4 separate regions of the Homo sapiens genome follow, and regions 2, 3 and 4 are each linked to region 1. The links come from fine-mapping of genetic effects on gene expression. A gene starts in region 1. Each other region holds a variant in brackets. All regions are shown on one strand. Distances are from middle to middle. Region 1 holds the start of TEX101 (testis expressed 101). Region 2 holds the start of PRG1 (p53-responsive gene 1). Region 3 holds the start of LINC03078 (long intergenic non-protein coding RNA 3078). Region 4 has its middle 17 kb from the start of CD177.

Region 1 (7,824 bases):
GATTTTTCTCATTTGGCCATACTTCCTAGGGAAATTTTAGAACCCCAAAACAGCAGCCTTAAGATTGGGCTGGGAGTGTTCTGGAGGAGGCTAATGCTAGTTACTTCTGCTAGCAAGGAGAGCTAGCATATTAGAGTGAAAGGAAAATCAGACTTTACGTCAAAATATGTAAGTTCTTGCCTTGGCTCTGGCCATAGCTAAATGTAAGAAACTCACTGAAATTTTCCAGATCTCAGATTCTCTTTCTGGAGAATGTGTGGTTTGGAGAAGATGAATTTTAAAGGCTCTTTCAGCACTAAAATTCCACTTCTAGTGTTGAAACATACACAAATCACAGCAGAAATGTTTATTAGTAACGCCTACTGCATACAAAAATTATAGCAGAAATTGTATTAAAAATGTCAAATACGTTCATAGTATCTCTGTATTCTCCCTCAAATTCCCATCTACTCCTCAGCTTGTTGAACCTCAACAGTAAGAAGGCTCCCAGTCAAAAAAGATGTCCTCAGACCCAGGCCCAGAAGTGCCTTCTTAGGAAAAGTGAATAAATGATGGCAGCAGCAATGGCAGCAGTAGCTGTAACCCCCAAACAGGAATGGGAAGACAGGTGGCCCCATTTTCAGTCTTTCGAGGTTGAGTGAGCAGCTGATGTGGGCACGCTTCCCTCACAAACATGGGTCCTACTGCTAAGATTCCAGACATCAGCCTGCAGCCAATCATGGCTGTACAGCCTTTGACCTCCACAGACGACTCAATGCCACCTATAGAACAAGGAAGGATCGGGAGAGACAGAGATGTTTTAGGACATCAGAGGAGAATCCAGTCCCCCCTCATCCCTGGAGAGCTCAGTGTCAGAATCTCTGGGGAGCCACTCAAATGGTTTTCCAGCCTCTGAAACTATCAGATGTTCATTTCAGTTTACCTCCAGTGATCTCAAGTTTTCCTTGATAGCATCGAGTTGTACCATTGGGACAGGGAAGAGAAGGAGCACTGAAACAGGTCCCCAAAGCCACACAGGTTGGACAATGGAGGGTTGTTGACACAGTGGAAGCTGGAGGGAAATGAGAGAGACAGTTAAGGGCAGGTCCTGCCTCCAGAGATGTTGCTCCTTGCTGCCTTCTCTTCCCCAAGATTTTCCTGCAGATGCCACTCTAATCAAGGCCCATTACTTCAGCCTCCCCATCCTTCCCCAGCTGGTGTTCTCTGCTGTGAAATCTCCATCGATCTGACTTCCAAACTCTGCTGAGGTGTGAAGATACAGAGATGAAAAGGACATAGTTCCTGTCACCTGGCATCTCTGCCTAGGAGAAAGACATGTAAGTAATCAATTCAGTAGCTGCTGTGTTCAAGGTATAATGACAAAGGAATGGAGGAATACCCAACTACCTAAAAGAATTTGGCAAATATTTTCAAAGAGCTGATACCTGAATTGACATGGAGGATGAACAGGGGTTAGCTATGTGAAAATGGGGTGGGGAGGGTAGTAAAGGAAACAGCAAGGACAAAGGTCAGGTGGTGTGAGCCAGCTTGGTGGATTCAGGGAATTGTGAGAAGTTGCACGACTCATATTCAGCTTGTAGGCCCAGCTGTTTCTTTGATCTGTTTTTTTTGTTTTTGTTTTTGTTTTTTATGGCCAGAATCCATTTTGATTGGCCAGTGCCATCTACATTGTTAAGCATTTTGAGTATTAGCCCCAGTTAGCACACAGTAAATGAGAGAGGGAAGAGAGGGAAATGAAGCTGAAAAGACAGGAAGGGCCAAGTTACTACAGGCCTTGTAAATTGGGGAACTGGGCCGTTCTCGTGCAGCAGTGGGAAACCAATACTTGTTAGACTGATAATACCACCCTGTTCGGAAACCTACACTGATGTCTTATTGCTTTTTTTTTTTTTTTTTTTGATGGAGTCTTGCTCTCTGTCCCAGGCTGAAGTGCAGTGGTGTGATATTGGCTCACTGCAACCTCTGCCTCCTGGGTTCAAGCAATTCTCCTGCCTCAGCTTCCCGAGTATCTGGGATTACAGGTGTGCGCCACCAGGCTAAGCTAATTTTTGTATTTTTAGTAGAGACAGGTTTTCACCATGTTGGCCAAGCTGGTCCCAAACCCCTGACCTCAGGCGATCCACCTCACCCAGCCTGTCTTATTGCTTAATAAACACAAAACCCAGTTTACACTCCAGGCTTCACTGGTATCTCGCTGCTCTGAGCAGTGTTTAGATCCCAATGAACAATTCAGAAACATAAAATTACTTGAACTGTGAGGTACTTTGGGGTATGGACCACTTAGGCTAAGCCAAGTCAGAATGCAAAGGGAGGCCATACACAAGCTCTTTATGGAGTTTCTCTTAGTACCTATCTCCCCCACTTCCAGGGTACCTGTGGTCTCACTGAACTCCCAAAACTGAGACAGGCTGTCTTTGTCATTACAGAAGGAATCCTCACAGTAGTTACTGTAGGAGGTCACGATCAGGCCGGGAGGTGAAGAGTGCTGGACAATTGTTATGGCCTCCTCCCCTTCCGGGATGCAGCCCTTCGTGGCCAAAATGGCTGTCTCAGTCCCTGTTATGAGACAGGAAGGAGGGGAAATGGATGGTGGCCGTCACAATTGGCCTGGACGAAGGGAACAAGCATTGGCATGGAGATAATCAACCTCCCTCCTACCCAGCCCAAATGCCCCATCTCATTTCACCTGCTTTAATTATTAGTATGGTTTCCTGGCAAAGTGCCCCTTTGTCACAAGTCTCCACTTCCTCTGTGGTCCAGTTAAACATATTGGCTGGATCTGCTTCCACAGTCATGGACAGACCCTTTTGACAATACAGCTCTAGGCCCGCTGAGGAGAAAACAAGAAAAGGATAAGCACTTCTCCATGGGCCAAGGCGGCTCCCTTTTCATCATCAGTCCACCTTCTGTGACACACGGCTCTCCCCTATGTCCCCCATACGCACAGGTCAGGAGGGAGGCTCCTAGGACCAGGAGGATCAGCAAATGCTGGATACGAGGGGTTCCCATGGCTTCTTCTGGAGAGGTCTGGGAGGAGCTGGTCTGGATCTGTGAATTTGATGGAGAGAAGGCAATTAACTTTTCAGCCAGAGTGCATGAGATCAAATCTAGGTCCTGGCAAGTACTGACTTCAGGGTGGGGTGTTTTAATCTGCATTTTTTTTTTTTTTGAGACGGAGTCTTGCACTGTCGCCCAGGCTGGAGTGCAGTGGCGCAATCTCGGCTCACTGCCTCTGCCTATCAGGTTCAAGCAATTCTCCTGCCTCAGCCTCCCGAGTAGCCGGGATTACAGGTGCCCGCCACCACACCCAGTGAATTTTTTGTATTTTTAGTAGAGATGACGTTTCACCATGTTGGTCAGGCTGGTCTCGAACTCCTGATCTCAGGTGATCTGCCCGCCTCGTCCCCCCATAGTGCTGGGATTCCAGGAGTGAGCCCTGATGCCCGGCCTCACAGTGGGGTTTATGGTGTATATGACCACGACTTCTAAAGTCGTTCTGTCCCTAACCGGCTTGTGAGCTGGAGCGAGTTCACAGGTTTATCACGCCCCAGTTTTTCATGGTTTTAATTCTCAGGCCCGGCCACCCAGTGCCCTCCAACTTCAGGATCAGGAGTGTGGCCCTGAAGGCCGCTTCTCCCTCAGTCTCAGGGGTCCCTTACATTCTCTCAGGGACCCAGAATCTCGGCCCCCAGCCCCAGCCCCAGCCTCATCAGAACCCGGGATTCTGAGAGCCCAGCCCCGTCCTATGTAGGGATCGAGGAGTCTGGGTTCCAACCACCTTTTCCTGCGGGACACACCATTCTGGTCCCCTCCCTCTCAGGCCCGGGAGCCCAGGCCCCCAACCCTCGTTCCCCTCAGAGCCAGGATCTGGGTCCCCAGCCTTCTCTTTCCTCAGAATCCAGGAATCTGAGTCCCTAGCCTTCTTTTTCTCTTTAAAGAAGCAAAATTGCTGCCGGCTTCCAGGCAGACGCCTCACAAGAATCTCACGACGCCAAAGTTGAGGCCCGGAACGCCTTCTCCCCGGGCTTGGCATTCTCTTACGACGCAAGGCCGGGCCAGCCTGGCCACACAGCACTCGAAACCCCATTGGTGGATGCAAAAGCATCGGATAAGTTCATTGGATGAGCCTGGAGGAACGCGGCACCTCATTGGCCACAGAGAAGTCAATTCCTGGCAATCTCGGAGGGTGCGCATGCTCGGAAGGTGAGTGGCGGGCAAACCGGCCGGAAGATCCTGCCTGTTTTTGCAGCCAGAGGCACGCAATGGAGGGTGGGCAGTGCGTTGCCAGATGGCCTCGCCTGGCCCATTTCTCTTTTTGCACTCTGTTGTCTCTGCTTCTCCAGCCACACTAGGAGGTCAGACCCTTGGCCCTCACTCACGGAACTTATCTCCCTACCCAAATGGCCTCTCATGTTCCCAGCCTGGCCCCTGCCTCGGCACCCACCTTAGTGGCCCTAGCCTCTGGGAGTCAGCTTGGCCTCTTGAGTCTTCACTTGCAGTGGCCCCTGTGCAGCCCAGGCGTCTTCATCTGATTGCGCTATCGCACCAGCCTCCTCATGGTCTCCTGGAGGGTTGAATCTAGGAATGCCCCCCTCAGCATCACTTTGGGCACCCCGAATGCATGCATGAGCAGTAGCTATGATGGCACAGGCTGCTGTCAGATCGAACCCACGCGTCCGTGTCAGGACCATGAAGAAGACATGTCACTCGGATTTGTTGCTCATGGCTGGCAGTTCACTTTCACATCTATGTAACCTTCCCTTCCCTCCCCTCCCCTCCCTTCCCCTCCCCTTCCCTTCCCTTTTTGACAGACTTTTGCTCTTTTTGCCCAGGCTGGAGTGCAATGGCACAATCTTGGCTCCCTGCAACCTCCTCCTCCTGGGTTCAAGTGATTCTCCTACCACAGCCTCCCAGGTAGCTGGGATTACAGGCATAAGCTACCATGCCTGGCTAATTTTTTGTATTTTTTTTTTGGAGACAGAGCCTCTCTCTATCCCCCAGGCTGGAGTGCAGTGACGTGATCTCAGCTCACTGCAACCTCCCTCTCCCAGGTTCAAGCGATTCTCATGCCTCAGTCTCCCCTGAGCAGCTAGGATTACAGGCACCTGCCACCACACCTGGCTAATTTTTGTATTTTTAGTAGAGACGGGGTTTCGCCGTGTTGACCAGGCTGGTCTTGAACTCCTAACCTCAGGTGATCTGCCCACCTCGGCCTCCCAGAGTACTGGGATTACAGACGTGAGCCACCACCCCTGGCCTATGTAAGCTTTCCAGGTGTGACATGAAGTTGTAGCAGGATGAGCTGCAGACAAAACTCCTCAGATACTGGATTAAAGAAGGAAGAGGTTTATTTGGCCGGGAGCCTCAGCAGACTTGCGTCTTAAGAGCCGAGCTCCCTGAAAAATAAATTCTTGGCCTTTTTTTTTTTTTTTGGAGTCTCCCTCTGTTGCCCAGGCTGGAGTGCAGTGGTGCAATCTCGGCTCACTGCAAGCTCTGCCTCCCGACTTCATGCCATTCTCCTGCCTCCGCCTCCCGAGTAGCTGGGACTACAGTCACCCACCACCACACCCGGCTAATTTTTTTGTATTTTTAGTAGAGATGGGGTTTCACTGTGTTAGCCAGGATGGTCTCGATCTCCTGACCTCGTGATCCGCCCGCCCCCCAAAGTGCTGGGATTACAGGCATGAGCCACCACGCCTGGCCAATTCTTGGCCTTTTTAAAGGCTTACAACTTCGAGGGGTCCACATGAAAGGGTCGTGATAAATCGAGCAAGCGTGGGAAACGTGACTGGGGGCTACATGCATCAGGTAACAGAACAGAAAGTTTTGCAATGCTTTTTCATATAATGTCTGGAACTTACAGATAACACAAGTAGTTTAGGTCAGGGGTTGCTGTTATTATTATTACTTTTTTTAACTCCTAGGGCTGGGTGGTGGTGCCAAGGTTGACTGGCTATTTATCTTACTTCTGTTTCTTTCCAACTTTTTGCTTTCTCTCTTTCCTCCTGTCTTGTGAACTAGGCAAGGTCGGGGGAGGAGGGCAGCAGGAGTAGTAGTGGTCTCCTTCCTTAAAGTAAGGCAACGCTTTGTATACTTTCAGAATTGGTACTGATTCTGTAAGTTATAGTATAAATGAGTATTTATTTTTAATAGAGAAAATGCCACAATAAGAAAGGGATTGGTAAAGCTTCAATCCCTTTGTTATCTTTGAACTGTTATCTTTGAATGATCACATGTCAAAGGATCCAGGAAGAATGTGTGCCAGTTTTCAGCCCCCGTCTGTCCCCCGAGGGCTCGTGCTTGGGAAAGCAGTCACCTTGTTGAGTCACTCTCCAGGTGACTTGGTCGCAGAATCCCTCCATCTCACACCTAGAAGAGACCTTGGAAGCCTAAGCACCCTCCACCTCTATTCTTCACCCCATTTCTGCTTCAACAGCTCCAGGGACCTCCTCTTGCTCCGTGACATAGTTTGGATATTTGTCCCCCGCCCAAATCTCATGTTGAAATGTAATTCCCAGTGTTGGAGATGCGACCTGGTGGAAGGTGTTTGGGTTATGGGGGCAGATCCTTCATGACTTGGTGCTGTCCTTGCAATGATGAGTGAGTCCTTGCCAGATCTGGTTGTTTAAGTGTGTGGCACCTCCCCTTCTTACTCTCTCTCGCTCCCCTTCTCTGGCCTGCATCCTTTTGCCATAAGTAAAAGCTCTCTGAGGCCTCCCCAGAAGGAGATGCTGGCACCACGCTTCCTGTACAGCTGCAGAACCTTGAGCCAATCAAACCTCTTTTCTTATAAATTACTTCTAGTCTCAGGTATTTCTTTATAGCAGTGCAAGAACACCCCAATACACAGCCCCTTGAGAAAGGTGGCTTTGCCTTTTTGGTGCAAGAGAGATTGACAGATCTTCCTTAGCCTGAGCCAATTTCTGTTCCTCTCCAAGCTTCAGTGTCCTCATCTAGAAAATGAAGAGGTTAGGCTGGGTGCAGTGGCTCAAGCCCATAATCCCAGCACTTTGGGAGGCCAAGGTGGGTGGTTCACCTGAGGTCAGGAGTTTGAGACCAGCCTGACCTTCACCAACACGGTGAAACCCTGTCTCTGCTAAAAATACAAAAATTAGCCAGGCCTGGTGGCACGCGCCTGTAATCCCAGCTACTTGGGAGGCTGAGGCAGGAGAATCACTTGAACCTGGGAGGCGGAGGTTGCAGTGAGCTGAGACTGCACCATTGCACTCCAGCCTGGGCAACAAGAGCAAAACTTGGTCTTGGTCTCAAAAAAAAAGAAAAAAAAGAAAAAAAAGAAAATGAGGAGGTTAGTCTAGAGCAATGGTTGGCAAATAGTTTATGAATCCATGGAACGTTTGTAAAAAAGAAAAAAGCTCAATGGCTAATATACAGTGAAGGCATCTTTTTATATAAGCACTTGTGACACCACCATTGGTCACTGGATTATTGCAGTACGCCCTGCCCTTGCCCATGTGGCTATTTCCCACCTGGCACCAGAGCGATCTCTTAATTGCAAGCCACACCACATTACTCCTGTTTAAAACTTTCTAATGGGCCAGGCACGGTGGCTCAGGCCTGTAATCCCAGCACTTTGGGAGGCCGAGGTGGTGGATCACCTGAGATCAGGAGTTCGAGACCAGCCTGGCCAACATGGTGAAACCCTGTCTCCACTAAAAATGAAAAAATTAGCTGGGCGTGGTGGTGCGCCCCTGTAATCCCAGCTACTCTGGATGCTGCAGCGAGAGAATCATTTGAACCTGGGAGGTGGAGGCTGCAGTGAGTCAAGATTGTGCTACTGCACTGCAGCCTGGGTGACAGAGCAAG
Region 2 (6,271 bases), 63 kb after region 1:
TCATTGGTCAAGGGAATGAGGGGGTGCCCTGGAACGAGCCAGTGCCTTCACCTGCAAGCGCTACTAAACCTCCAAGAACAGGAGACTTCTGTGTTCACAAGCTGTTCCAATAAAAGAAGCGCAAAATATCTCCCTAGACTCTTTATAACACCAGACAAGGAAAGTGGAAAGTTACAGTTCAGTCTCCCTTAGGAAGAGGAAATAGCAAAAACCCTGCAGGAGAACTTCTTGAACCAAACGCAACAGAATAAAAAAAGAATGCAGGATAACCCAGTTAATGGTGATTTCATATCAGAAATCCGTCCTGTTTGCTCTTAGAAGAGGAGGGGTGCGGGGATTCCCGGGTGGCAGGTCGGTGGGAGGGATCGGGAGTGAGTGGGGAGGGATGGAAAGGGAGCGGGGCGGGGCGATGGTCAGGGAGCAGTCAGGGGAGGGATGGAGCCAGCGAGGGTCGGGATAGCGAGCGAGGGTGGGAGGGACTCCGTAACAGCCCCTCTGTGCTCAGCGGATCCCCTTCTAGCAGCCCCTCCCTCTCCTCCCGACCCTCCCGCAGGCACCTGCTGGGGGCTGTGGGGCCCAAAGCGGGAGGGAGTTAACGAGGTTGTTGCAGAAGTCCTCCTGGCGGCACACGAAGGTGTAGGAGATCAGGGAGAGGCCGGGGCCCATCCGGTGCTCAGTGACGCGGGGCTCCTGGTCCTTGGCCTCCGTGCAGCCCTTGGAGAGCACCAGGCTCACTTGGGGTCCTGGACCGAAAGAGGGAGGCAAGCGAGGATGGAGGTCAGGCCTCCAGGGTCCTGGAGGGAGACGCTGCTACACGGCGTAGGCTGAGAGGCTGGAAAGGGGATCACCGGGACCCTAGGAGTCGATCCCCCGGAGGGGTGGCTCCCGGGTCCCTGCACAGGGATCAAGGGACTGAGGGGACAGGGCGGGGTCTCTGCACGCCAGGGCCTTCTCACCGCTCTCAATGAGCATCAACGTGTCCTGGCACCCCAAGCCGCTGTCGCAGCTGGTGTTCTTAGGGGTCCATTGCCGGGGCAGGTCGGACACCTTCCACACATGCTGAACTGTCCCAAACTGGCAGAGCAGCGCCTGCACTCCTGGAGTGGCAAGAGCAAATCCATCTCAGCAGGGTTCCCTTGCCCGGCCTCCAGGGAATCTCCTCCAGGCTGGGCTCATCACTCACCTGGCAGTGGGAGGATGAACCCCAGGAGGGCCAGCAGTAATACCGCGCTCATGACCCGTCTGTGGCTGGTAATCTCTTTCTGCTTTTTCAGCAGGAAACAAGTCCTTTATACCAGCCCTTAAGCAGCCAGCCCAGAAAAGGGTGGGGAGGGGAGGGCCTTGCAAAATGGAGGCTTGGGCCCCACCCCAAGTCTCAATGGCCGCAGTGGCCTATCAGGGACCCCCTTTCTTCCTCAGACCTTCGGGTCCAGGCATCCAGCCCCTCCTCCCTCAGATGGAGGGTCCAGGACCCCCAGCCCCTCAGCCCCTCCTCCTTCAGACCCAGGAGTCCAGACCCCCAGCCCCTCCGCCCTCAGACCCAGGAGTCCAGGCCCCCAGTCCCTCCTCCCTCAGACCCAGGAGTCCAGGCCCCCAGTGCCTCCTCCCTCAGACCCAGGAGTCCAGCCCCCCAGCCCCTCCTCCCTCAGACCCAGGAGTCCAGGCCCCAGGCCTCCCTCTCTCAGACCCAGGAGTCCAGGCCCCGAGGCCCTCCTCCCTCCGACCCAGGAGTCCAGACCCCCAGGCCCTCCTCCCTCAGACCCAGGAGTCCAGGCCCCCAGGCCCTCCATAGTTAGAAACTGTGGCATCTTGACCCGAGGTTCCCCCGGTCCAGACTCCCAGCCCTCTTTCCTCCTGAGCCCAGCTATGTGGATCACCACCCCCACCCTCTTTCTCCAGTAGTTTGGGAAGGCAGTTTCCTCATTTCTCATGGGCTCCCTGGCCACCTCTGTACCCCAGATGGGGAAATGGCCCAACTACCTGTGAGGACGTTGTGCAGTGGGCATCAGCTTGTCCCCATGTCTTCCGGTCCTAGTTTCTACCCTCCACTGTCTTCCCACTTCTCTGTTCTTTCTCTTTCCTTCTTATATTGCTTTCTTTTGATTCTTCTTTTCATGCTTTTCTCTCATGCTTTCTCTTCTATTCTCTACCCTCACAGTACAACATAGGACTCAAGTCCCCAGTTTCCTACCACCAGGAAAGGCTTGGCCAGAGGTGGAGTAGAGACTGAATATCTATGAAAGAATTAGGATATATCTGAAAAATGCAACATTTATTTGCTGGAAGCCGATGGGAGAGCAGTGTTGTGCTGAAAAACCAAGTTTTCTGAAAAACAATACCCACAAATCCTGCCTCGTAGTGTTGGCCTATTTCTCTGGTGTAAATACTCATAGCATGTCTGATTTTAAGCTACCTACAGTTTGCCAACCAGGCTGATGAAATCCCTAGCTATTTAACCATGGGCTTGTCCAGGGCTGTACAAATCAGCTGTAACACACTGGGGTGGCGGGGAGGAAGACAGGAAGGAACCTGGGGTATCTGTCAGTGACTGCAGAGGGACGTTGTGGGTGTCTGTGACGGAGAGAGGAGAAGCAGAAGAGGGAAGGCGAGAGCAGGAATAGCAGAGAAAGAGAAATGAATGTGACTTGCAATTATATGTTTATTTTTGACATCTCTATAAATTTTATCTTTATTTGTCTTTGCAAGTTTATTGCAAGTTTAATATTTGCCACACAGACAGGGAAGTGTTTGTCTGATCTCCTGCTATGTCTCCACCACCTACATGGCATACAGTACATGCCCAGTAATTTTTTTTTTTTTTTAGAAACAGAGTCTTGCTCTCACCTATGCTGGAGTACAGTGGTGCAGTTGTAGCTCACTGCAGGTCACTACAGCCTCCATCTCCTGGACTCAAGCAACTCTCCCACCTCAGCCTCCCGAGTAACTGGGACTACAGGTGCACACCACCATGTCTGGTTAATTTTTGTATTTTCAATAGAGACAGGGTTTCACTATGTTGTTCAGGCTGGTCTCAAACTCCTGACCTGCGGTGTTTTCATTTTGAAAAATTTCAGGCTGGGAGCGGTGACTCATACCAGTCATCCTAGCACTTTGGGAAGCCAAGGCGGGTGGATCTATTGAAGTCAGGAGATTGAAACCAACCTGGACAACACGGTGAAACCCCATCTCTACTTAAAAAAAAAATACAAAAATTAGCCCGGTGTAGTGGCAGCCACCTGTAGTCCCAGCTACTCCGGAGACTGAGACAGGAGAATCGCTTGAACCCAAGAGGCAGAGGTTGCAGTGAGCCGAGATCGCACCACTGCACTCCAGCCTGGGCAACAGAGTAAGACTCCATCTCAAAAAAAAAGACGGAAAAATTTCAAACCGGCAGAAAAGTTGCAAGGATAGTACAGTGAACACAAGTATCCCCTTCACTGGATTCACCCACTCTTCACATTTTATTGTATCTGTTTATACACACACAACATATGCTTTTAAAATATTCTTAAATTTTAAAAACAAGGAGTAGACATTGTAACTCTCACCACTAAGTGCTTCAGCAAGAACCTTCTTAAGATTATTCTTAAGGGGGCTGGGCACAGTGACTCACACCTGTAATCCCAGCACTTTGGAAGGATCACTTTAAGTCAGGAGTTCAAGACCAGCCTGGCCAACATGGTGAAACCCCATCTCTACTAAAAATATAAAAATTAGCTGGACATGGTGACACACAACTGTAATCCCAGCTACTTGGGAGGCTGAGGCAGGAGAATCACTTGAAGCTGGTGGTGGAGGTTGCAGCAGTGAGCCGAGATCACACCACTGCACTCCAGCCTGGGTGACAGAGCCAGGCTCCATCACAAAAAATAAATAAATAAA[A/T]AAATTTTTAAAAAGCATATATCATTCTTTTTTTTCCTCTCTCTCTCTTTTTTTTTAGATGCAGTTTTGCTCTCTCACCCAAGCTGGAGTGAAGTGTCGTGATCTCTGCTCACTGCAACCTCCGCCCTCCAGGTTCAAGCAATTCTCCTGTCCCAGCCTCCCGAGTAGCTGGGATTACAGGCGCCTGCCACCACGTCCGGCTAATTTTTGTATTTATAGTAGAGACAGGGTTTCACCATGTTGACCAGGCTGGTCCTGAGCTCTTGACCTCAGGTGATCCACCTGCCTCGGCCTCCCAAAGTGCTAGGATTACAGGTGTGAGCCACCACGCCCAGCCTATATAGATTATTCTTAAGGACTTTGTCCTGCGTAACCACAGACCAGGATCAGACCCGTGTAGTTTACACAGATGCACTGTTGTCTAATAGGAAGCCCATTTCCAGTTTTCCTCTGTTGTCCCAATGACATCTCTCATTGCGTTTTTGCTTTCTGATCAGGAGAACATCCGGGGTCAAGCATGAACTGCACTGCGTTGTCTTTATGAAAGAGAAACAAAAACTCAGGACCCCAATTCACTGTGACAGAAGGAAAAAAAAAAAACTGGAAGCTGAGTCATGCAAGAAACTGCCTTTCCTTTTGTTCCTAAGCAGACAGCTACAGAGAAAAGGTTAAGTATCTCCGTAGGTAGCTACTCTATGTTCATCTTATCTTTCTTTAAAAAAATTTTTACTTATTTATTTTTTTTTGAGAGAGTATCATACTTTGTCTCCCAAGCTGGGGCGCAGTGGCACGATCTTGGCTCACTGCGACCTCTGTCTCCCGGGCTCAAGTCATTCTGTCACCTCAGCCTCCCGTGTAGCTGGGACTACAGGCACCCACCACCGCGCCCAGCTAATTTTTGTGGTTTTTTTTGTAGAGATGGGTTTTGCCATGTTGTCCATGCTGGTCTCAAGTTCCTGGGCTCATGAGATCCTCCCACCTCAGCCTTTCAAAGTGCTGGGATTACAGGTGTGAGCCACCACGCCCGGCCATATTCACCTTATCTTTCTCAAGGTGCCAATTTACTGAGCGTGAGATGAATACGTGATTGATTATTCCCCTACCTCCTGCTTTCTCTTACACCATGTGGATTCAGTAATGCGACCACACCCTCCTTCTTTCACCGCCAGCCAGCTTTTCCACCCTAAATATTGAAGTCCTCAAAATTATCTTTGGAAAAAGGCACAGACCACAGACTGTTTCTATGATTGCATGGTTTTTTCTATGTCCTTAACCTTGGCAAAATAAGCTTCTAAGTTGATGGAGACCTGTCTCAGATACCTTTTGGTTTACATCTCATCTCTGGACTCCCCTTTAATCTAGGAGTGCTCCCCACCTGCCTTTCATTTTCTTTAATGTCATTGAAAGCAATGGTTCACTTCTTTTTTTTTTGTAAAGTCTTCCACCACCTGGATGTGTCTGACTCAGACTATGATTAGAGTAGTTTTAATGATTTTTGGCAATATTCTTCTAGCTGGGTGTCGTGTGTCACATTCAGAAGGCCTTTAATGCCTGTTTGTCAAATTCTTGGCTAATTAACAACTGCTGTGTGAGGTAAGCCATGGAGGAGGCTGTGTGAATGTCCTATTCCCCACCACGAGACCCTTCTGTCTCCTTGCACACATTGTGCCCAAGCTACTTCCAGAAAATCCTCTGTGATCACGGCAAATCACATGATGCTTTTGGTCCAGCTCCCCTGCTGCCCTCCTATCCACTCTTCTGCCCATTACAGGAAGCCTTTACACCCAGGCAGCTCAGCGTCCAGAGCTGGTTCCACTCATCCCCTTCAAGGAGAGGAAAACTGAGCCCTGGGAAGGAGAAGTAAAGCTGGAGTCACAAAGCCAGGAAATGGTGGCCAGGGGCACGACCCAGGCCTTATAAACAACCTGCACTCTTCCCCCTGCAACACAGCCTGCTGAGGACGCTCATCAGTCATCTCAGTGGTTCACTTCCAATCTCTTCATCTGCCAAGCACCCAGCATGTTCCAGCAAAGACAAATTATTCCTATGGCAAACTGACCTGCATGCAGTTTACAGGACTTTATGTTATAAAGAGGAGGGATCTATGGCACTTAATGAAAAGTTACACTTAAAGATTTTCATAGGCCTGGCTGGGTGTGGTGTCTCATGCCTGTAATCCCAGCACTTTGGGAGGCAGAGGTGGGTGGATCACCTGAGGTCAGGAGTTCGAGACCAGCCTGGCCAACATGGTGAAACCCTGTCTCTACTAAAAATACAAAAATTAGCTGGGCATGATGGCATGTGCCTGTAATCCCAGCTACTTGGCTGGGGCAGGAGAATGGCTTGAACCCAGGGGGCGGAGGTTGCAGTGAGCTGAGATTGTGCCATT
Region 3 (7,824 bases), 80 kb after region 1:
TTCTGCCTAGTTTTATGCTTCTTTTGCTCTTGGTGCCAAAGAAACTGTAAACCTTTGTCTTAAAACTGGAGTCCCTTCCAACTGCTGGTGACAGAAATCCCAGCAAGATAAGAAGGAGCAAATGTCCCCGCTTCCCAGACAACTTGAGATATAAGCAGATCCTATTCATCATCCTACAATGTTCTTGCAAAGATTATTTCTATCAATGGAGCTCTGTAAAACACCCAGACTCCAGAGACCATCACTTGGTCCTGTGAAGGTAGCTCTTAGCCTTCAAAAATCTGAAATTCAGATGAATTGCCTAAGTTACATGTATTAATCCATTGCCCAGGGCATACTATGTAACTAGACAACTCCGTTTTCTGGAAGATGTACATACTTATGACATTTGTTTGTTAGTCTGGAAAACTGCCTTTCAGGGAGGGAATGCTTTTCCTCTATCCACTTAGGTTCAGTATCTGGAGGCCTGTGAATTAAACTAACAAAAGACCAATTAACAACAGAAAGGGCAGAGAATTTTTATTACATGCATGGGAGTTCACAGAAAAGAAAAAATGAAACGGCTAGACTTGTGGGGCTTATATACCATTTTAACAAAGGAAAGGGGCTTGTTCTTCAAAGGGTGATACATCATGGGACAGTGACCCGGAAATACCTGGGGCACTGATGGAGATGCAGGTTCTGTTAGTGAGGTCGGTCTATGCATACTCATCTCAGTGTGGACTCGCCATCTCCAGGATGAGTTGCTTTTCTTAATGGTCTGGGGAGGAAACACCTTCCCAAAAGGAAATATATGCCCTGCTTCTAGGTAGATAAGGAGAGGGCAGTGCTCTTCCAGCATCTGTTGATTCTCAATGGCCTTCAGCTCAAAACAATCCTTATACCAACGTGGTACATTTTGGGGTGACTTAACTTGATCCCTTTCAGGCCACTGATGAGTCCATCTTTCCCCACCCAGGTGGACACAGGAAGAACCTGTGATGGATGGATTTCTTATTCAATGGATGGATTTCTTACTTAAATGTAGGGGCTCTTTAAGAATCATTCATTAATTCACTGTGCACTCCCTGAGCTCCTGCTCTGTGCCAAGCCCTATGCTGAATGATACTAAGACCCCAAAATGAATGAGACCCATCCCCGCTCTCAGGGACTTCTCATTCCCAGGAAGGGCAGACAGAAAAGGGTGCTCAGGCCCATAAGAGGGTGTGGTGACAATGACTGTGGCTAGGCTGAACGACACCTCTCAGAACTCTCTTCCCTGTAGGTTCCTGTTAGGGTGGGAGCGGGACACACCTGCCCAAAGCAGCCGCCGTTGTGCATTTCATGCTGGGGAAATCCAGGCAGGAGCTTCCGTGGCTCAGGTCCAGGTGTTGCTCATCTGCTAGCTCGGCTGGTCAGCCTGGAGCAGCAGCAGGACCTGAAACTGCTCCACCTTTACCCCAATCCTCCTTCAGTTTCTCCACCTCCTGAGCCAGGTGTGCGTTGACCTCTGTGACAAAGGTCACTCCTGCAGGTCCCCTGCACCACCAAGATGAGGCAGCAAGAATAGAGGCAGGTTCTGTGGGTCCCGAAACCTTCCACCTTGTGTGGGCTCCTGGCTTGTCCTTACTCCCCACTTTCCATCCATCTCCCCTTCCCCAGGGCCTGCCCTGCAGACTTGGAGCTCAGGTCAGATGCAGAGCCCACAGCCTCCTCACAGACTTCCATCAGCCAGAGATGGGATCCTGACACATTCCACCAGCGCCAAGTGGAGAGATATTTAGGTATTTAGGGGTCTGAATGAGGGGCAAACTGGCCCACCTGGAGCGGCAGGGAAGGTTTCCTAGAGGAATTCCTGCTATTCCTCACTGCGCTTCCAAATTTTAGTCGTGTTCCACTTTTACGATCTGAATAGCACTTGCACTGCTATTTACTCAAAAATTTTCCTTAAAGCAACTCACTGTTTTTCTTTGGCCTCATCTTAAAACAATAATGTTTATCCAATCATGTGATTAATATGCTATTTTCAATTATTTTTCTCTAATAGGCGCTTAATCACAAGCATAGCCTGTAACGCTTTTTAACAACTGTCGTGTGTAACCCCTTAGAATCATCTCACATGCCCTCAGCCACTGACACCTGAACCCTATTTTGGGAAACACTCCTTTAGGTGAATTTTGAAGGATGAACAGAGGTTTACATGGAACCAAATGGAGAAAGGGGATTTTGTACTGAGAGAGCAGGTTAAGAAGTTTCCTAGAAGATGTGACAGAAGCTGCATTAGTTATCCATTGTTGCCTAGCAAATTACCCCAGGGCTTCAGGGCTTAAAACAGCAACAGATATTTGTTACCTCTCAAATTCTGTGGGGCAGGAATTGAAGAGTGTTTGTTTTCAGCTTTTTATTATGAAGCTGGGTGATTGTGACTTGGTGAGTCTCATGAGGTTGGAGTAAAGAAGCCAGTCAGGGTGCAGTCATCTGCAGCTTTACTGGGCCTGAAGGGTCTGCTTTCTAGGAAGGTCACTCGCAGGGCTGACAATGTGATGCTGGCTAGTTCCTACCTCAGGGCCTTTGCACTTGCTGTTCCTGTGCCTGGGGTGTCTTTCATCTACTCTTTGTATAACTAGACCCTTCCCATCCTTGATGTCTTTGCACCAATGCCACCATCCATGACCTCTGATGCCACCAAGTTACTTTCTTACACATCATCCTTTGTTTTCAACTTTTTATTATGAAAATTTCAAACATCCAGAAAAGCGGAAAAAATAATACCAAGAATACCCGCATCCTCTCCTTATATTCAAGTTTAACATTTTGCCATATTTCCTCGTTTTTTTCTGAACTGTGTCAGAGTAAATTGCAGGCATCAAGGCACTGTGTCCTTGAGTGACACTATGTCCTTGAGTGCTTTAGCGTGCCTCTCCCCAGAGTGACTGGCCCACAATCCCATGATCACACCTGAGAAAATAAACAATAACTCCCTAACCCTATCTAATATATAGTCCTTTTTCAGTCTTCCCCTTTGGTCTCCAAAATGATTTTTCCATCTGTATTTATTTATTTAATTTATTTTGAGACAGAATCTTGTTCTGTCATCCAGGCTGGAGTGCAGTGACAGGATCTCAGCTTACTGCAACCTCCACCTCCCAGGCTCAACTGATCTTCCTGCCTCAGTCTTTAGAGTAGCTGGGACTATAGGTGTGTGCCACCACGCCTGGCTATCCATGTGTATTTTTAAAACTGGAATCCAATCAAGACTTATGCCTTATATTTGGTTATTATATCTCTTACATTCTACAATAGTTCACCCGCCTATTCATTTTTTTGTGACTGCTAAAGACAGCATGCCC[A/G]AAGTGAAGTCAACTCATGCTAAAGTTCCACATGCTTTTTTTTGTTTGTTTGTTTGTTTTTGTTTTTTGAGATGGAGTCTCACTCTGTCGCCCAGGCTGGAGTGCAGTGGCACGATCTTGGCTCACTGCAAACTCTGCCTCGGGGGTTCAAGCGATGCATTTTTTTAATCCTTTGTTCTGAATGCAATAATGACTAAAAGATTTTCACAGAAACTTCACAAAATAAGATATACGAATAGCTAATATGCACAGAAAAAAACTACTCAACATCATCAGTCATCAGGGAAATGCAAATTAAAATCACAATCAAATGTTGCAACCCACCAACCAAATTCCTGAAAGTAGAAAGACAAGACCCCAAATGTTGATGAGGATATATGGAGCAACCAGAACTCTCATATACTGTTGTTGAGAATGTAAAATGATGCAACCACTTTGGGAAAAGTCTGTCCCTTTCTTATACAAGTAAACATATACCTACTCCATAACCCAGCAATTTCATTCCTAGGTATTTTACCCAAAATGAATGAAACATGTGATCATAACAAGACACATACAAAGATGTTATTTTGTTTTATTATTATTATTTTGTAGAGATGAGATTTCATCATGTCTCCCAGGCTGGTCTTGAACTCTTGGCCTTAAGGGATCAGTGCCTCCTTGGCCTCCCAAAGTGCTGGGATTACAGGCATGAGCTACTGTGCCCATCCAAAACATACACAAAGTTATTTTTAAAAGCAGATTTATTCATAATAATAATGGTCCAAAACTGAGGAAATATTAAAACAAAATACCCATCAATAGGAGGATGAATAAGCCAGATGTGGTATATTCACACTGCTGAATATTATGTTGCTATAAAAAGTAATAAACAAGGCCGGGCCCGGTGGCTCATGCCTGTAATCCCAGCACTTTGGCAGGCCGAGGCGGGTGGATCACGAGGTCAGGAGATTGAGACCATCCTGGCTAACAAGGTGAAATCCCATCTCTACTAAAAATATTTAAAAAAAAAAATTTATCCAGGTGTGGTGGCGGGCGCTTGTGGTCCCAGCTACTTGGGAGGCTGAGGCAGGAGAATGGCATGAACCCGGGAGGCGGAGCTTGCAGTGAGCAGAGATCATGCCACTGCACTCCAGCCTAGGCGACAGAGCGAGACTCTGTCTCAAAAAAAAAAAAAGTAATAAACTACTGATAGAGGCAACAAAATACTTCATTCTCAAAAACATTTTGCTGAGCAAAAGAAAATTTAACCCACAGGAAAACGTACACATTGTATGATTCTATTTATATGGAATTCTTCTACAGACAACATTAATTTATGATGAAAACTCAGCACGATGGTTGCCTCTGGAGGTGGGACTGGGCATGAGGATTGGCTGGGAAGGAACTCACTGGGGCAACAGGAACTGTGTGTGTCTTGGAAGGGGTTGCATGGGTGTATGCACTTATTTGTCAAAACTCATCAAAAGGTACACTACAACTTTGTGCATTTTACTTTATGTAAATTTCACCTAAGATAGAAACAAATATTAAACTCTAGTTAATGACGTTAGTGCTGGGGTATTTAGGGCCTAAGGGTACTGAGATCCGCAACTCACTCTGACATACATGAAAAAATAGGATGGATTTATTTTCATGGATGTAAGAATATTTAATCAAGCAAATACTACAAAATATTAACAATTACAGAATCTACATGATGAGTATGTAAGTGTTGGCTGTACAACTTTTTCAATTTGTTTGTGTGCTTGAACATTTTCATAATAAAGTGATCGAAAAGAAACTAAATGTGTCTCTTCATCTTTTGAAGATGAATTTTGTGTCCTTTAGGAGTGTTTTAAGAGTTTTCTCGTATAGGTTTTACAAATTTCTTGTTAAGGGTATGCCCAGGTGTTTTATCTTTATATTGTCATAATAAAAGAGGTCTTATATTACACCTTCTATCTGAGTATTGTTTCTGTGTATAAAAGTTATTAACCTCCTTATGTTAACTTTACATCTTTCTATTAAATTCTTGCATTGATTAGTTTTTCACTATGTCTGGAATTTCCTAGATATATAATCACATATTGGTTGTGAATTGGTATAGCTTATTCTCCCTCTTTCTAAGTCTTATATCTCTATTCGTATCTGTACCCCAATTTCATTGGCCAATGCCTCCAGTACAATATTGAGTAACAGCAGTGACAGTGGGCATCAGACAGGGACACAGTTGACCTGGAGGCAGCACCCCCAGTGCTGTGATGGAGGAACACAGGGCATTCTGGGGACCACCTACCTCCCAGGCTGGCATCCTCTCTCTAAAGCCCCCAGAGATACCTCCCTGAGCCCTTCCTTTGAAACCTTGGGGACAGGTGGCTCCTTCTAAGGCAGCCCATCCTCCTGGTGGACAGTTCTCTTGAATCTCGACCTGCTGTTCTCTGGATAACTCCTGTCCTCTCCCTGGGCTCATCTTGCACTGCATGGAGTTGGGCAGCCTGGGGACCTGCAGTGAACAGGACCTGGGGTGACCTGACCCTGCAGTCTGGAGGTCAGATCCCACTTCTGCCCAGGGGTCAGGGCCAGCTCATACCATGCAGACCCTGGTCAGTGTCCCTGGGGCAGCCCCTGACAAGGCCACAAGTCTCCTCTTGCCCTCCAGGGGGCGACATCACACACAGATAACACTCAGGAAATGGATTCCCCTGGACAGGAACCTGGCTTTGCTAAGGAGGTAGAGGTGGAGCCTGGTTTCCAGCCCTTGCCCCAAATGACCCTTCTGGTCCCTGCCATGTGCCTGCTCCTTCATGGTGCCTGCTCTGCCAAGGGTTTTTGTGCAGCTCCCCACTTCCTCCTGGCATCACCCATGGGGAAGGTGTGGTAGCCACAGGACACACACACACACACACACACACACACACACACACACAGACAGACACAGTCTTTCTATCTCTCTCGCCCCCCCAACCACCTGCAAGGTTAAGGGGTGAACATAGGGAGAACATGGACAGGCCCTGAGCCACAGCTCAGCCAACAGACACAGAAAGGGAGGGTCTCCATGAAGCCTTCCCCAAGGACAGCAGGGCTCAGAGCCACCCACCTCCCTCCACCACAGTCCTCTCTACCCAGGACACACAGGACAACTTCCTCCACACCCTGGAGCTGGAGCTCCACCTGAGTCCAGCCTGGGTCTCTTTGGGTCAGAGGCCAGGCTGGTGACACTGGAGACAGAGGGCTGGTCCCTCCCCAGTCATCCCCCAGTGAGCTCCTTTCTATCCCCCAGAGCCACCTCTGTCACCTTCCTGCTGGGCATCATCCCACCTTCCCAAGCACTAAAGAGCATGGGGAGACCTGGCCAGCTGGGTTTCTGCATCACAAAGAAAGAATTCCCCAGGTTTGGATCCCCAGGGTTCTGTGTGTGGAGCTGACAGACCTGAGGCCAGGAGATAGCAGAGGTCAGCCCTGGGGAGGGCGGGTCATCCTCCCAGGGGACAGGGTTGCACCAGCCTTGCTACTGAAAGGGCCTCCCCAGGACAGCGCCATCAGCCCCACCTGAGAGCTTTGCTAAACAGCAGTCAGAGGAGGCCATGGCAGTGGCTGAGCTCCTGCTCCAGGCCCCAACAGACCAGACCAACAGCACAATGCAGTCCTTCCCCAATGTCACAGGTCACCAAAGGAAAACTGAGCTGCTACCTGACCTTCGAAAGATAATAGCCGATTTCCCAAACAGGCCAGTTTCAATCGCATGACAATGACCTCCCCTCTGCTCTCACCGTTTCTAAAACAGGAACCTGATTCTCCCCCATCAGAGATTTCTCCCTTGTTCCATGAGCCTTTCCCGAGTGGCCCTGTTTTTTGTGTTTGCTTTCCGCAGCCCTCCCCTCTCTATTAAACCCGCGCTTCTGCTCAGCTCCTTGACCCACGTATTGTCTCATGGGATGAAGTCTCGCCCGATTTTAGGACGGCAAATAAAGCCACTTGAAGTCTTTATCTGTGCTAGTTTGTCCTGTGACAGCTCTGTGTATCTGTATGTGTACATGTGTCTCAGTTTCAATGAATCTGAGTATATATGTGTGTGTGTCTGTATATGTGAGTGTTTGCCTCTATGTCTGTATATATGTGTATATGTGTTTGCCTGTATGTCTGTATATATGTGTGTCTGTGTTTGTGTCATGTCTGTGTGTATGTGTGTGTGCATCTCTGTGTGTGTCTCTGTGTGTGTCTCTGTGTGTGTATATGTGTGTGTGTGTGGACAAGTGTGGAAGGAGAGCCATATCTGAAGAAGGCAAATGGCCTCAGCAGGTCCTAAGGACCAAACACACACAGAAGGGAAGGGGAAGCAGGAACCAGAAGGCAGGACTGAGAGGGGAGGGGACAGAGAAGCATCCTGGGCAGAGTCCCGCCCCTGCCCCTGGCCCTAGGAAGTGCTCCTGCCCTGAGAGAAGGCTCAGCACAGAGGGAGGAAAGACAGCAGAACTGGCAGTCACAGTAGCTCTGATCATCCTGGAGCTAAGCT
Region 4 (7,824 bases), 44 kb after region 1:
TAGGGCTTTGCAACTGAAAGGTATGAGAAAGGTCTCAGGCTGCCTTCCTTATTATTGAAATGAGGACCTTAAAGCTCAGATGGGGAAGCAGAGATGGGCAGAGGCTCAGGAAGAGCTTCCATTGCTCTCACAGCTGAAGCAAGGAATGGCTGTTCTCACAGGGCTGTGAGAGGACGTCCCTGCGGGTGTTCAAGCAGAAACAGGGAACAATGGGGGTGGGGTTTGGACTCCCAAGTCCCTTCTGAATCCGTGGTTGAGGGACTCCGTGGCCAGGTCACCTGGAGTGTGACTCAAGAGCATGATCACCTTCCCTAGCCCAGGACGTGGAGGGACAGACATGGTGGGTTCCTGGCTTACACAGACCCTGGGTTTCCTCTCCCCAGATGTTCTGACCTGTCATCGGGGGACCACCTTGAAGAAGCAGGAAAACTTGAGTAAAGAACCCACTGATTGGGCCACATCTAATACCGAGACGTGCGAGGTGGGGCAGGTGTGTCAGGAGATGCTGCTGCTCATAGATGTAGGTACGTGGACTGAGGTAGAAGACGAACACCTGTCCCAAGTCCCTGGCAGCTCCCTCCACCCCACTGGATTCTTTCCCCTGAATTTCCTGCTCAGCTCCCTTCACATCTGCAATTTTCAATCCGACTCTTCTTCTCTCTGCATCTTGGGTTCCCCTTATGAAAACTGGGGGTGAAGCAGTGGGAATGACAGTGTCTGCCTTTCTGGGGAGGGGTGACCACGTATGCGGTAATCCCTGCCCAGGGTGGAGAACCGTGCCAACACCGAGGACTCTCAGTGGCTTCATACATTCTGGAAATGTTTATCCAGCATTTGTTTTAGGTGCCGCAGATCCAATCCCATCTGTATTCCTGCAGCTTTATATGCCTTGAGAAACAGGAAACAAACAAACAAAAAGCAGCAAAGTATGGGGAATGGAGATCCCAGCTCTGGAGAGAAATCTGGCAAGGAAAAGGAGATAGGAAAAGTGAGGGGAAGGCTGCAATTTTAAGCTCAGTGCTCAGGGGAGACTCATGGAGAAGGTGACGTTTGAGCGAGAACTGGGAGGAGGCAGAGCTTCGGGCAGGACCCAGGCCCCAGCCTCCGTCTTTGCCCCACACTAAACATGACCCAGCAGTTGTGATCAGGGCATTCACCCTCTGCCTGGGGGGTATTGTGAAGGGCAGGGAGTCCAGCTCTGGAGCCCCTGCTGCCCTGGGAGCTGCCCAGTCCCCAGCCCAGCTTTCCCTCTCACCCTCAGGACTCACATCAACCCTGGTGGCGACCTAAAGCTGCAGCGCTGTTGGGGCTCAAAATTCCCAGAAGACCACCATCCACTCAGCCCCTCCTGGGGTGCTTGTGGCCTCCTATACCCACTTCTGCTCCTCGGACCTGTGCAATAGTGCCAGCAGCAGCAGCGTTCTGCTGAACTCCCTCCCTCCTCAAGGTATGGGATCCAGGGCCGTGGAGAAATGAGGCCCAGACACACAGAGACTCTGGCCCAAGGTGGGCAGCTGCTCTGAGCACAAAGTCATGTACCCCCACCTTCCCTCTGCTCCCCAGCTGCCCCTGTCCCAGGAGACCGGCAGTGTCCTACCTGTGTGCAGCCCCTTGGAACCTGTTCAAGTGGCTCCCCCCGAATGACCTGCCCCAGGGGCGCCACTCATTGTTATGATGGGTACATTCATCTCTCAGGAGGTGAGTGCTGCAAGCAGGGCCCCAAGGATGAAGGCGCTGGTGTCCTGGGCTCCTGGGACTGAGGGAGAAGGGGCTGGGGGCCTGGACTCCTGGGTCTGAGGTAGGAGGGGCTGGGGGTCTGAGCTCCTGCGTTTGAGGGAGGAGGGTCTGGGGCCTGGACTCCTGGGTTTATGAATTTGGCTGGGCTGTACTCTGTGTCCTTTCTGACTTGGTCTTCTCCCTCTAGGTGGGCTGACCACCAGAATGAGCATTCAGGGCTGTGTGGCCCAACCTTCCAGCTCCTTGTTGAACCACACCAGACAAATTGGGATCTTCTCTGTGTGTGAGAAGGGTGATGAGCCGCCTCCTGCCTCTCAGCATGAGGGAGGTGGGGCTGGGGGCCTGGAGTGTCTCACTTGGGGGGTGGGGCTGGCACTGGCCCCAGCGCTGTGGTGGGGAGCGGTTTGCCCTTCCTGCTAACTCCATTTCCCCCACGATTCTTCACCGCTGCTCACCACCACACTCAACCGTCCCTTGTGCTTGTAACCTAATGGCCTTGGACACCAGATTATTTCCCCATCCTGTCCATGAATCATCTTCCCCACACATAATCATTCATATCTACTCACCTAATAGCAACACTGGGGAGAGCCTGGAGCAGCCGGACTTGCCCTGTGGGAGAGGGGACACTGGAGGAGTGGCTGCATGTGTCTGATAATAAAGACCCTGTGCTTTCTCCCAGTGCTGGGATTTCTCCATGTAAGGGGACAGCAGGACGCCCAGGGATCTAGCATGGTGGAGGAGAGGAACCTAATGAGAAAATGGCCATCCAAAGCCTGCCCTTCATTGGTCTGGTTCATGTCTCCAAACCAGCTTGGATGGTAGCAGAGACTTCAGGGTGCTCCAGCCAAACGTATTTGGGCATCACCATGACCTGGGAGGGGAAGATGCACTGAGATGTATGAGGCTTCCAGCCTAGCAGCCAGGGCCCTAGCACAAACAGGGGGCTGGCCCCATCTGAGCGACTGCAGGAGAGGTTAGTATAGTCATGCATTGCTTTACGACAGGGACGTGTCGTTAGAAATGTGTCGTTAGGTGATTTTATCACGAAAGGAACATTGTAGAGTGCACTTACACCAACCCAGATGGTACAGCCCAATACACACCCAGGATGGATGGTAGAGTTGACTGCTCCTAGGCTACAAGCCTGCAGTGCATGTTATGGTGTGAATACTGCAGGCATCGTAACACCACGGCAAGTATTTGTGCATCTATACACATCTAAACATAGAAAAGGTACAGCATAAATACACTATTGTCATCTCAGGAGACCACCGTTCTATACGCAATTCGTCACTGACCCAAACGTTGCTATGTAGCATCTGCCTATTGTGGGATAATTGACATAAGGGCTAAAGAGAACTCCAGAAAAAAATGGGTTAGCATTTTCCCAGAGCTGTTACCATTGGGTATCTCTTACCACCATAGCCCAAAAAGGGTGAGGAGAAGAGCCACTGCTGGAATCTGCAGACAGAGAGAGAGAGAGAGAGAGAGACATAGACAGAAAGAGACAGAGAGAGCTGGAGAGAGAGCCGGAGACAGAAAGAGAGAGATATTCAGAGAGGGTTGCCTAACAAGAGCTCCCATCTCAGGCTGAAAAACGCGTCCAGCCCGCAATGATACTGGGGAGGGAAGTGGGGAACTAAAATTCCAAACTGATGTCCTCACTCTGGTCTCCAGTTGAGGTTCCCCATTGACTGAACCCCCTAGAGGCCACAGAAGCAGGAGACTCCACTGGTCCAGCCCCCATAGATCTGCCATTCACAGTAGAGAACAGAGGAGAGGAAAGGGAAGAGGAGAAGAGAGTGAATCTGGAGAAGGAAACAGAACACGTCTAGCACCGTTCACTCCCTTGCCCCTCGGCATCCACCCTTTCCCTTTGTCCAGATGAAAATCAGAGTCCAGGACAGGCTCGGTGGCTCACGCCTGTAATGCCAGCACTTTGGGAAGCTGAGGTGGGAGGATCACTCGAGCCCAGGAGTTTGAGACCAGCCTGGGCAACATAGTGAAACTGCTTCTCTACAAAAAATACAAAAAATTAGCCGGGTGTGGTGGTGCGTGCCTGTCTGTAGTCCCAGTACTTTGGGAGGCCGAGGCGGGCAGATCATGAGGTCAGGAGATTGAGACCATCCTGGCTAATACCGTGAAATCCAGTCTCCACTAAGACAACAAAAAATTAGCCGGGTGTGGTGGTGCACGCCTGTGGTCCCAGCTACTGAGAAGGCTGAGTCCAGAAGGTCAAGGCTGCAGTGAGCCAAGACTGCACCACTGCACTCCAGCCTGGGGGACAGAGCGAGACCCTGTCTCAAGGGGGAAAAAATAATCAGAGTCCTCCGTACAGACGACACACAATTCCAGTCCTTCCCTCTGTCACAGTAACAGTGTGTGATGGTGACAGTGATGTCCTCCTCCCATTGTGCTGTGCACCAGTTCTTCGCCCACAATGAGAGGAAGATGGGGAAGAGATGGCTTCCAATACAGCTGCTGAGGTCCTGGGGGCGGGGCTGCTGGTGCTCAGAGCTGCTTTCTTCCAGTACATTCCACATTGTCCTCCCACCTCCAAAACCTCCTTTGGATGTTATTTGTTACCTGCAGTGTAACCCAAATCTTGATTCTTATGGAGAGTGAGTCTTGGATGGCCTTGTCTTTAGTGGGTTTCTATAGTTTTCCATGGAACAGGGCCCTGGCCAAGGAAATGTTACCGCCATGAGTTGCCTGCCTTCGAAAATAGCCTCCTTGTCCCAGCCACCCGACCTCCCTCTGTAATCAGATGCCATTCCCCCGACTGCAGAGTGACGTCTCCTTTGCCTGCTGTTTTGGCAGCACAAGGGGCACAGGATGGCTGGAGGGCTGTCATGGCTTCCTGCAGATCAGAACTAGGAAGAGATTCCTCATCCACAGCAGCCCAGGGCCACGGGGACAAAGAGCAA[G/A]CATTCTCTCAGTGGGCTGGCAGGTGCAGTCACGGGAGGGAGCCGCGCTTATTCTTCCTGTCTTTCCTGGATCTTTGCATCTGGCCCTGGGGCGCGTGACCCGATAGCCTGGTTGCTGGTTTATAAGATGTGTGGCCCCTCCTGTGGGTGGTGGGGTACGGTCTCCCTCCCGGTGCCCTGATAAGCCACACATGAGCCATTGCGCCAATCTGAGAAGCAGCTGTGTCTGTATAGAGGGGCACCTGAGACGGTCAGTGGGTTCCATGGGTGTGAGTTAATTACCCCCCATTCTTTGCGTTAACACGTGTCCCCAGTGGAAGCAACCCTGCATGGGTTCCAGAGCCACAGGAAAGGCGCTGTTCACAGAAGCACTGAGCAGGGTCCAGGGAAGGCCAACTGGAACCCCCAGTGTGTGCGTATCCGTGTGAGGACAAAGCCCAGTCCCCTCCAGGATGGGACGTGTCCTGTGTGGCCAGCCTATCTGCAGTGGCCGGGTAGTCCTCCTGTAAAATGACGCCTTCCAGGGGCTTAGCCCCGGGCTCTGCCTACACTGGGCAGGGCTGGGTACAGTGTGCAGCCAGGCCAGTGCTGGGAGACTCAGTCCACTTGTGGTAAGGTACGTCGCCGTCCTCCCTATCCATGTGGCCATCTGCACCTGGACCCCCTGAACAAGCTCTGAGGGACAGAGTCTGCCTGACACCATCCACCAAACACCAAGAACCTCATCCCCACAGCACAGGTTCTGGGCTTAAGGGTGGGGACGGCATAGCTCACACTTTGTGCCCATCCCCAGAGGAACATCCATGTGTCCTCCCTGTCTTAAGTTTACTCTTTTATTCTCTTCAAGTCCTTGACCATGTGGCCCGCTCTGGGTTCATGCAATGGACCCAAGTCCATCCCTCCTTGCAGAACCCCTGAGGTTCTGCCCATCTGAAGGATTTCCCTTCATCACTCCTCAGGACCACCTGAAGTGGGCACTAAGGCAGCCGCCGTCCACTTCTGCTGGGCGCCAGCTCACCGTGAGGACCCATCCATAAGCCTGGTCTGCACTTTCCTCCTCTGTATGAGGTCACAGGGCTTCCCAGGAGCTCACAGATGTGGTAGAGGGAGGGGCAGGAGGACAGGTGCCATGGGAGCCTGAGTCACTTGCAGTCGGGGGAACGGCATCTCATTACAGAGGGAGGTCAGGTGGCTGGGACAAGGAGGCTATTTTCGACCTTTGGGAATTACAGCTGAACGTGAGATTTGTGTTCGGACAGAGGAAAGCCATATCATTTGGCTTGTTTACACCTTTGGCTAGTGTGAATAATGCTGCTATGAACAAAGACATGCAGATACCTGCTGGGGCCCCTGCTCTCAGTTCTTTTCAGAATACACCAGAAGTAGAATTGCTGCATCGTGTGGTAAGTCTATGATTAATTTTTTGAGAAATGACCACAGTGGTTGTGCCATATTATATACCCACAAACACTGCACAAGCATTCCAATTTCTCCTCGCCAACACTTTGTTTTTTTTTTTTTTTTTTTTTTCAGAACTGCCATCAGAACAGATGTAAGGTGGTATCTCACTGTGGTTTTGATTTCCATTTTCCTAATGATAAGTGATGTTGACCAAATTTTATTTGCTTATTGGCCATTTATAAATTCATTTTACATTTCCTCCTTTGTAATGCCAGAGGTGGCACACTGTGCACTGTTCTGCTTCTTGTTTTTCTCACTGTGCAGTGTATCTTGGAAGTCTTTCCAAGTGGGTCGACAGAAGGATACTTCAATAAAAATGGGCAACACCGCTGGACAGCCATCAGAGCCATGAAGTCCCTGGCTTAGGGGAAGGCAGAAGGAGGGTGAGAAACAGAGAGATCGAGAAAGGCAGAGAGAGAATGGGGGCAGGGATGGAGAGAGAAAGAGAAAATGATAAAGACCCAGAGAGAGACAGAGTCAGAGATATATGGGGGTGGAGAGGGGAGATACAGAGAGAGGCAGAGAGGAAAGGGTACAGAGACACTAACACAGAGAGATGGAGGGAGGGGAGAGGCATGGACAGAGGGAGAACTCAGAGAGTCAGAGCCAGAGAAGTAAAAGGTGTGCCGTAGAGAGACACAGGGCAGGACTAGGGTGAGACAAGAGAGGACCCAAGCTTGTGGATCCTTGATTAAAAATCAATGGTGTTATAATAAGAAAGAAAAAGGAAAGAAAGAAAGAAAGAAAGAAGGAAGGAAGGAAGGAAGGAAGAAAGGAAGGAAGGGACCAAGTGAGAGGGAGACAAAGACAGAGAGAGACAGGGAGACACAGAGATGAAAAGACACAAAGTGAGCCAAAGACACACAGTGAGGAGGAGACAGAGCCAGAAACAGAGACCCAGTGCGGTGGAAAGAGAGAGGCAGACAGACAAGAGCAGCATCTTCAGGGCGACCCGATGCCCAGTGCCCCTGAACTGCTCCACGGGGAGGTGGCTGAGCGCACAGCCTGCATCCCATCCATCATTTCCTGGCCTTCGTGACTGGGTGACCGTGCACAATCCAGTCCCCGTCTCTGAGCCTCAGTTTCCACACTGTAAACCAGGCATAGATACACCACCTCAAGGGTGGTGGAGAGGGCTGGGCTGGCTGTTTCTGCTTAATGCCCCCTCATGTTTCACAAAGGACCCCATGAACTGTGATGAGAGTCACTGTTCATTATCATGACGGCTTCCAGTACTTACAGCAGTCAGCACTAATGTCATGCACATCATCAGCACTTGGCATGAATCCCCATTCATTACAGATCAGTATTAATTGAGTCGATGCTCTGTGCCCGATACTTGTACACTCATAACATGGATTGTTAATTTAATTGAGACAACCACAGTCTGAGGTCAGTGATATCACGATCATCTCCACTTTCCAGAGAGGAAGCTCTGCTGGTAAGGTGCGGAGCTGGGGTTCAAACCCAGGTGGTCTGGCTCCAGGGCCAGGTGTGCCCAGGAGCAGGGCTCTTCCTGGGTGTCCAAGGCCACCTTGTCTCCAGGAGTGTAACCGTGTTTCCAGCCACTGAAAACTTGGATCAAAGCCCAAAGTAAACTTTCCCTTTTCTGGCTTTGAGGTGTGGTGTTTAAATTCAGAGACATTCTCCAGGAAAGCAGAAACTTCTTGGCTAAAATCCAAACCTAGGGAATTTA

Evidence for each region.
Region 2: its variant is fine-mapped to the expression of TEX101 in whole blood (TOPMed, PIP above 0.99).
Region 3: its variant is fine-mapped to the expression of TEX101 in whole blood (INTERVAL, PIP above 0.99).
Region 4: its variant is fine-mapped to the expression of TEX101 in whole blood (INTERVAL, PIP 0.97).

Annotation. Positions count from the first base shown.
Region 1 is chr19:43,411,105-43,418,928 of GRCh38, reverse strand. It overlaps TEX101 (testis expressed 101), which reads right to left and starts at 4,039. Exons shown (of 6, transcript NM_001130011.3): 1 at 3,891-4,039; 2 at 2,946-3,048; 3 at 2,687-2,830; 4 at 2,374-2,556; 5 at 923-1,051; 6 at 332-761. The coding sequence starts at 3,009. The coding sequence ends at 532. RefSeq lists a silencer at 5,652-5,838.
Region 2 is chr19:43,348,679-43,354,949 of GRCh38, reverse strand. PRG1 (p53-responsive gene 1) reads right to left here and starts at 5,894. Exons shown (of 1, transcript NR_026881.1): 1 at 5,402-5,894. It overlaps CD177 (CD177 molecule), which reads right to left and starts at 1,264. Exons shown (of 9, transcript NM_020406.4): 1 at 1,184-1,264; 2 at 957-1,097; 3 at 558-743. The coding sequence starts at 1,235. The variant A/T (reference allele first, on the strand shown) is at 3,883.
Region 3 is chr19:43,331,442-43,339,265 of GRCh38, reverse strand. LINC03078 (long intergenic non-protein coding RNA 3078) reads left to right here and starts at 7,758. Exons shown (of 2, transcript NR_186343.1): 1 at 7,758-7,824. The variant A/G (reference allele first, on the strand shown) is at 3,330.
Region 4 is chr19:43,367,075-43,374,898 of GRCh38, reverse strand. It overlaps the pseudogene CD177P1. Among named protein-coding and RNA genes, the nearest start is that of CD177, 17 kb to the right of the region's middle. The variant G/A (reference allele first, on the strand shown) is at 4,668.